Linked DNA regions of Homo sapiens. The protein of the gene in region 2 binds, or shares a complex with, the protein of the main gene of each other region. Each region holds a gene or a part of one and is shown on either strand. Other genes may lie near its edges.

What was found. The genes of interacting proteins can lie anywhere in the genome.
Region 1: LAMTOR2 (region 2) and FLCN share a complex: the UniProt entries of both Homo sapiens proteins name them as parts of the lysosomal folliculin complex.

The regions. Positions count from the first base shown.
Region 1 is NC_000017.11:17,229,974-17,234,168, reverse strand, and holds part of FLCN (folliculin), read left to right. Parts: intron 1-1,267; 5' UTR 1,268-1,381; intron 1,382-2,286; 5' UTR 2,287-2,375; intron 2,376-4,195. UniProt on the Homo sapiens protein: Multi-functional protein, involved in both the cellular response to amino acid availability and in the regulation of glycolysis.
Region 2 is NC_000001.11:156,053,349-156,057,581, reverse strand, and holds the start of LAMTOR2 (ragulator complex protein LAMTOR2), read right to left. Parts: upstream 2,801-4,233; 5' UTR 2,693-2,800; coding exon 2,625-2,692; intron 2,320-2,624; coding exon 2,157-2,319; intron 1-2,156. Other genes in the region: UBQLN4 (ubiquilin-4), read left to right, coding at 3,881-3,988. UniProt on the Homo sapiens protein: As part of the Ragulator complex it is involved in amino acid sensing and activation of mTORC1, a signaling complex promoting cell growth in response to growth factors, energy levels, and amino acids.

The DNA of each region.
Region 1 (4,195 bases), on a different chromosome or scaffold from region 2:
GGAAGTGGCTTGTCAGCGTTGCCTCTGGTTTCCCTCTCCTGCTTGAGAAGGAAACTGCCAGGCCTATGGCCTGAAAAGTAAGTTGGTGTGATGTAGATGCTGCCAGAGCACCCCCTTATAACCAAGAGTAAGAAAGATGGGGACTTGGCTGGATGCAGTGGCTCATGCCTGTAATCCTAGCACTTAGGGAGGCTGAGGTAGGTGGATCACCTGAGGTCGGGAGTTCGAGACCAGCCTGGCCAACATGGTGAAACTCTGTCTCTACTAAAATACAAAAATTAGCCAGGTGTGGTGGCAGACACCTGTAATCCCAGCTACTCAGGAGGCTGAGGCAGGAGAATCACTTAAACCTGGGAGGCAGAGGTTGCAGTGAGCTGAGATCACGCCATTGCACTCCAGCCTGGGTGACAAGAGTGAAACTTGGTCTCAAAAAAAAAAAAAAAAAAAAAAAAGGAAAGATGGGAACTTGCAGCCTTGACCTCCCAGGCTGAAGTGACCTCCCAACTTAGTCCCCCAAGTAACTTGGACTAGAGGCATGCCCGGCTAATTTTTTTTTTTTTTTTTTTTTTTGAGATGGAGTCTTGCTGTGTCGCCCAGGCTGGAGTGCAGTGCCGTGATCTTGGCTCACTGCAAGCTCTGCGTCTCAGGTTCACGCCATTCTCCTGCCTCAGCCTCCCGAGTAGCTGGGACTATAGGCGCCTGTCACCATGCCTGGCTGATTTTTTTTGTATTTTTAGTAGAGATGGGGTTTCACCATGTTAGCCAGGATGGTCTCGATCTCCTGACCTCCTGATCTGCCCACCTCGGCCTCCCAAAGTGCCGGGGTTACAGGCGTGAGCCACCGCGCCCGGCCTGGCTAATTTTTTTTAAAAATTTTTTGTAGAGACAGGGTCTCACTGTGTTACCCAGGCTGGTCTCAAACTCATGGGCTGAAGCAATCCTCCTGCCTTGGCCTCCCGAAGTGTTGGGATTACAAGCATGAGCCACTGAGCTGGCCTCAAGACCCTATCTCTAAAAAAATAAATACAGAGATCCTTGATCAAATACTGGTTTAGAGTGCCTCAGAGGTGCAAGAGTTCAGCTAAAATGTCAGCTCCTGCTGAGAAGGTCAGAGGCCTGCTAAGCCATTCAGAACCCTGGGGAGTGTCTACATCCTCATCAGACACGTTCTTATTTGAGACTGGCTGTAAGCTGCTCCCATTATTTTTCATGCTACGAAGGCCTCTAATCTTAGAAATAGCTCTAATTTTTTTTTTCTCTTACCTAGAAAACGCCAGGTCTTCAAGGGTGTCTGCCACCACCATGCCTGACCCATTTGGCAGCAGCCTCGTGTGTGGTGGTCTGGTGTGGACGGTGGAAGCGTGATTCTGCTGAGTGTCAGGTTAGTGTGGGTGCTCTGCAGGTGGGCTGAGACTTGGCCCAGGCTTGCTGTCCTGTGCATGTCTTGCTAGAAGGAACCTTATTTCTCTTCCCCTGATGCCTCTCAGAGAAAGGCGTGGCCTTCCTTTTCGCAGTTTAATGCCTTTACCTTTCCTTTGGGTCCTGCTACCCCTTACTCCATCAGTGGTCGCCCCATCTCCTGTTGAGCAGTAGATTTTTAAGCCACTCATCATAGTGAACCCTGTGGGCCCTTTATTGAAACTGTCTGTTTGGTTCCTGTGCCACTAGACTCTGGCTCCGGCCTTCCCCACAGCTGTGGCTCCTGAACCTCTGCCGCCCCTAGATTCCGCCCCTTTCTTGGCAACAGCTGTCATCTTTCCAAGGGCGACTTCTCAGTCCTCTCATTTATCTAACACGTGAATGTGGCGCTTCCTGTGTGTCAGGAAGGCACTTTGGAGGCGCAGTTCTGCGATGAGGAGCGCTACGACTCAAAGCAGGGCAGGGGAGGGTGTCGGGGTGGAGGGGAGCTCTTCTGGTGGGCTGGCAAGGGGTACTCTGAGCAGGGGAGCAAGTGGAGGCCGAGTGGTGAGGAGTGAGCCAGGTGACGGTGTGTGGAGCATTCCTGACCTTTGTCCCCAGCCCTGCCCTCTCCTGTCCTGCAGCCTGCATCTTTGCTGAGTTCTCAGGGCCTTCCAGCTAGAAGTTCTGCCATCTGTTAAATGCGTATGTTTCCTCTCCCGCTGCCTGTCTGCCTCCCTCTCGGAGTGCACCTACAGAGCACTAGCCCTCCATTCCCTGCCAGCCACACCCAGGGTCTCCCTCTCTGACTCCCACACCTGCCTCACTGCCAGCCCAGCTAAGGTTCTCTTCAAATGTCTGTTTTCTGTCTGCCTCTGCCATTCCCAGTGTGACCACTCGTGCTCAGCCGTATCTCAGCAGGAGGACAGGTGCCGGAGCAGCTCGTGCAGCTAAGCAGCCAACTGCAGAAACGTCAGGTGGGTGGTGCATTCGCAGGCATGCTGAAGAAGCAGTTCCAGGCATGGGCCGCCGGCAGAGAGGCTGGCTGCAGCACCCCCCACCACCATGCACATCGTCCTTTGCTTCTTCCTAGAGTTAGCGGCTTTGGCAGGCCATGCCTTGTTTGTGTTCACAGCCTGCCTGTCAGGAGCGAAGACAGAACGTCTGACTTTTGGATCCGTAACAGGGGTGGGGGCTCCCCAGAAGAGAAGAGGCTTTGGGTCCTGGCCAGTGTCCACTACTCAGTCAAACATTCAGAAACTTACATGATTCTTCATCGTCCCAAGCAAGTCTGACTTGGGCCCTTTATTGAAACTCTGTTTCCTCTCCCGCTGCCTGTCTGCCTCCCTCTCGGAGTGCACCTACTGAGCACCAGCCCTCCATTCCCTGCCAGCCACACCCAGAAAGCAATGGGGCTTTCTGGGAAGGCAGAAATATTCTGTGACCTGGGCTATTCAGAGGGGTGGCGTGAGTCGTGTGTGCCTAGCAAACACTCAGGACATGGCCGGTGAGACAGAAGGGCTGAGCTTTTGTCCTAGCTAATATATTAATTAATTAATTCATTATTTATTTTGAGACGGAGTCTCTCTGTCGCCCAGGCTGGACTGCAGTTGCGCAGTCTTGGCTCACTGCAACCTTCGCCTCCTAGGTTCAAGCAATTCTCCCGCCTCAGCCTCTTGAGTAGCTGGGACTACAGGTGTGCGCCACCATGCCTGGCTAATTTTTTTTGTACTTGTAGTAGAAATGGGGTTTTGCCATGTTGGCCAGGCTGGTCTTGAACTCCTGACCTCAAGTGATCTGCCCACCTCGGCCTCCCAAAGTGCTGGGATTACAGGCATGAACAACCGCACTCAGCCTATTTATTTAATTTTTTCGAGACGAAGTCTCACTCACTCTGTCACCCAGGCTGGAATGTAGTAGTACGATCTCAGCTCACTGCAACCTCCACCTCCCAGGTTCGAGCGATTCTCCTGCCTAGGCCTCCCAAGTAGTTGGGACTACAAGCGTGCGCCACCACTCCAGGCTACTTTTTTTTTTTTTTTTTTGAGATGGAGTCTCGCCCTGTCATAAAGGCTGGAGTGCAGTGACCTAGTCTTGGCTCACTGCAACCTCCGCCTCCCAGGTTCAAGTGATTCTCCTCCCTCAGCCTCCCAAGTAGCTGGGTTTATAGGTGACCGCCAACACGCCCAGCTAAGGTTTTTGTTTTATTTTGTTTTGTTTTTGTTGTTTTTGGTTTTTTTTGAGACTGAGTCTCACTTTGTTGCCCAGGCTCGAGTGCCGTGGTGCGATCTCGGCTCACTGCAACCTTGCCTCCCAGGTTCAAGTGATTCTCGTGCCTCAGCCTCCTGAGTAGCTGGGACTACCAGCGCACACCACCACACCTGGCTAATCTTTGTATTCTTAGTAGAGGCAGGGTTTCACTGCGTCGGCCAGGCTGGTCTCAAACTCCTGACCTCAAGTGATCCACCCGCCTCAGCCTCCCAAAGTGTTGGGATTACAGGCTCATGGGATTACAGGCATGAGCCACTGTGCCGGCCTCTCCTAGCTAATTTAAATTTTAAATTTAAGTTGTCACACATAGCTGTGGCCACCGTATGGACAATGTGGGTCTGGCTGCATGTGTCAGGCTGTGTCACATGTCAGGCTGTTGGCTGTGGCTGTCCCCACTGTGCACCTTTGCTTTTGCGGTCTCGTTTCCAGAACTTCTCTGCCAGTGAGAACCCCATGACACACCCCCATTTTAAAGCCTTCTCTGGCTTTCCTGCATTCGTTAGGAAGGCATACTGCCTCATGCTGC
Region 2 (4,233 bases):
CTGGTATTTCTCCTCTTTTCCCATGGTAATGTTTTTCAAATTGCAGATTTGACCCCACAGTTAGGAGATAAATTAAGAAGGTTGATCAGCATTAAAAACCAAAAAAGAAAAAATGAAGTATATTACATGTAGTAGGAAAAGTATTGTTTCATGACTTTTGTTTTAGTGGGTCTATGTGTGTGTTGAGCTCTGACTTAAAATGTCTTTCTTAAAAAATTTTTTCCTATTTATTTATTTATTAAAATTTTTTTTGTAGAGATGGGGTCTTATTAGGTCACCAAGGCTGGTCTTGAACTCCTGGCCTCAGATAATCCTCCAGCCTCAGCCTCCCAAAGTGTTGGGATTACAGGAGTGAGGCACTGTGCTCAGCCTTAAAATGTATTTCTTTTTTTTTTTTTTTTTTTGAGATGGAGTCTTGCTCTGTTGCCCAGGCTGGAGTGCAGTGGCGTGATCTCGGCTCACTGCAACCACTGCCTCCTGGGTTCAAGTGATTCTCCTGCCTCAGCCTCCTGAGTGGCTGGGATTACAGGCACGCACCACCATGCCCAGCTAATTTTTGTATTTTTAGTAGAGATGGGGTTTCACCATGTTGGCCAGGCTGGTCTTGAACACCTGACTTTGTGATCCGCCCGCCTCGGCCTCCCAAAGTGCTGGGATTACAGGCATGAGCCACCATGCCCAGCCCCTTAAAATGTATTTCTTATGGCTGGGTTGTGGTCAAAACGTTTGAAAGCTATTGCCCTATAGCACCAGCTCTAGGCATCCAGTAGGAGTCATATGTTGAACTAAAAATGGCATTGGTTGTGCAGGGGGTAGGGGAGAGTAGGCAGTTGAGTTACAATGAAGATCCTTCCTGGAGAGTTCACCTTCTGGCCAATTTGAAAAAAACAAAAGTAAGTTCAGCAAACTTTTACTAGGTATTTATTGTATGCCAGGAACCAAGCACTGCACTCCCTGCCTCTCTGACCTCATCTCCTACTACCCTCCTCCATCTCACGTAACTCCAGCCATACCAACCAACCCTGTTGATCCTTGAGCAGGCATAATTCTGCCTCAGGGCCTTGGTACTTGCTGTTCTGTCCAAAATATTCTTCCCTCAGATAACCACATGGCTTGTCCCCCACCTTTCTTCAGATCATTGATCAAATGTCACCTTTTCAGTGAGACTGTCCCTGACACATACACCCAACAAACTCATACTCTTTCACTTCCCTGCTTTCTCTCCATTGCATTTTCAATACCTAATATATACTATATATTTTACTTATTTTAAAAAATGTGGCCAGGCACAGTGACTCACGCCTGTAATCCCAGCACTTTGGGAGGCCAACGTGGGTAGATCGCTTGAGCCAGGAGTTTGAGACCAGCCTGGGCAACATGGCAAAACCCAGTCTCTGGAAAAATGCAAAAATTAGCGAGGTGTGGTGGTGCATGTCTGTAGTCCCGGCTACTCAGGAGGCTGGGGCAGGAGGATCACCTGAGCCCAGGGAGGTCGAGGCTGCAGTGAGCCGTGATTGTATCACTGTGTAAGATTTATTAGGGCTGGGGGTTTTGTCTTTCTGTTTGCTATTTTTTCCCTAGTCCTGAGAATACTGCAAGGACCTAAATACTTGTCGACCGAACAGATACTAAGAAGTTCACAATCTAATGGTGACTTCCCCTTTCTGGACTTCATTTTCCTTTCTTTGAAAGCTTAAGGGGTTGGACTAGGGTCTGGAGACTGCCATGGTTCTGTGAGTCGGTGAAACTGGGATGACAACACTTTGTGTTTGCACGTCATTCTACTGTTTATACCCATTATTTCATCTGACCTTCACAACAACCCATGAGGGGAGCGGGGAGAGGGAAATTATTGTCTTCTCCTTAAACATGAGGTAAGGAAGCTGAGAGAGGTTAAGCGACTTACCCAAGGTTCCACAACTGATAAGTGGATGGCTGAGACCAGAACCCAAGTCAGACCTCTCAGGTCCAGGGATCCTTCCTCACCACCACTTGATGAATAGGGTCCTGCCTATTACAAATGCTGCTGCAGACCAACTCTTAGTAATCTTCCGGAGATCCTGTCCCTGCCCCTCCAACCATCCAGGATGGGGTCCAGGTCGCCCCCTTGGGATCCCCTTTGGGGGACAGGGGAAGTCTGGCTCCCCTCTCCATACCATGCAGTCCATGAGGATGAATTTGAGATTGTCTTCATTAAACGCTTGGTTCCCGTTCCGGTCGTAGGCGGCCCAGATGTTACTGGCTATGGCAGCGGTGACCCGGGCGTCAGTGTCCCCGTAACCAGAGTAGGCCAGCAGTGATCCCTCGTTATTCAGCAGCCTGGTGAGGGGCGGGGAGGGATAGCGATGTGCTCAGAGCGGGGAGTAAAACGTCTGGGTTTCCATCCCAAGTCCCACCAAGGGCACATCCAGCAAGGCTCTGGCCTGAGCGTGTCCCGGAACATGCCCTAAGCACCCAGCACACCGGCTTCCCTTTTCGACAGGGGACCTCCCGGCCGGTATCCCCAGCCGCTGCCCCCTCTGCCGCTTCCTCCCTTCCTGGTGATCCTTCCCCACCCCTCCCTCAGGGAGCCGCGCGCCGCCCCACTGCAGCGCTCGCCGCTCGGGTCCGTGGTCTGCACTCACAGGGTGCTCTGGACGCCTCCAGTGTTGGCTTGGCTTAGCACCTGGGTCAAAGCCTTGGGGCGCAGCATGCCTACGGTTCCTAACCCTGGGCTTTTGCACCCAGATCTCCGAGGTGCCTCCCGCGGGCCGCTGCCCGCTGCTTCCCGTAGTCCCGTTGGCCTGCTCCGGGACGCCCTGGGAGTTGTAGTTTCTTCGCCTGGCTATTGTGGTTCCGACTCAACCCCGCCCCACCGCGGGGGGCTCTGGGAATCGTAGTTCTTTGTGGCCTCGCGAGGCACCCTGGGAATTATAGTTCGCCTTTCCAAGCCGACCACGCGGTTGTTGGGGGGCGGAAAAGAACGGGAGTGAAAGGACAGCAGCAGCGCTGGAAGGACATTTAACCCCTTCGGGGAGAAAGGAATCAACGTGTCCGCTTGGCAGTCCACGATTCAATAATTATACTACATCCTCATATTTGTCAGGCACGCCTTTGGTTACTTTCAAAACAGTTTTCTCCGTTATGCACAATTCTGTGCGATGAGGCGAGAGGTACTATTATTATTATCTTGAGGAAACCAAGGCTCTGAAAGGCCACGCAGCCAAAACCCAGCTCCCTGGAACCGTTCTTAATAGACCATTCAGGCCGCGACCCTCGGGGCTATAGGGTCAGTCCCAGAGCTGAGAACCTAGGTGGACGTGCTTGGTGGGAAAACCCAACCTCCAAGTCGGGAAAGTCCCCTGGCCTGGAAGGGACTTGGGCTTCCAAGAAAGACCAAGTTATCACAGGGAACGGAGATAAAGCGGCGACACAGAAAGTCCTTTGTCCCGGAGCCGAGTTAGCCGCGGAGGGGGCGGGGAGGCTTTGGGCTGGAGGGGACCGCGGCACGGCTCGGGCGGGCAGCGTTGGGTCGCGGTCTCCCGGGGCAGTCCGCCCTCGCCCCCGCAATGAAGGGCACGCCCCTTCCCCCTCCCAGAGGCCCCCCAGGGGCCCCCGCCTGGCGAGACCCTGGCCGGGCTCCGGACCTGGGGCTTGGCCCTGGGCGGACCCCGCTGCAGTGGCCCCCCCGGTCCGCCCGGGGCGCTGTGGCTGCGGCTGGTCCGGAGGGGGCGGTGAAGCCTCGGGGAGGGGAGGGGAGGAGAGAGGAGGGGAGGGGAGGGGAGGGGAGAGGTGGAGAGAGGGGAGTGTTGGAGGCGCAGAAGCCGAGCCGGGCCGGCCGGGCGGGCGGGGAGGAGGAGGAGCCGGGCGGGCTGGCGGGCGGCCGGGTGGCGGCGGCGGCATGGCGGAGCCGAGCGGGGCCGAGACGAGGCCCCCCATTCGGGTCACCGTCAAGACCCCCAAGGACAAGGAGGAAATTGTGATCTGCGATCGAGCCTCGGTCAAGGAGGTAGTACAGCAGGCGGGGGGCGGGGGGAGCGCGGAGGAGGGGTCTGCGAAGAGATGGGGGGCCTCTCTGACGGTCCGGCGTCCCGGAGGGCCCCGGAGAGGAGGGCGGGGGCCGGCTGGGACTCCGAGGAGCTGAAGGCAAGGAGAGGCGGGTAGGGGGCGCCCTGCGAGGGGAGATCTGGGGGAGCGTGGCGCGTGTTGAGGGGCGGGTTTTGCCTTGTGGCCTGGGGGCGTGGTGGAGAGTGA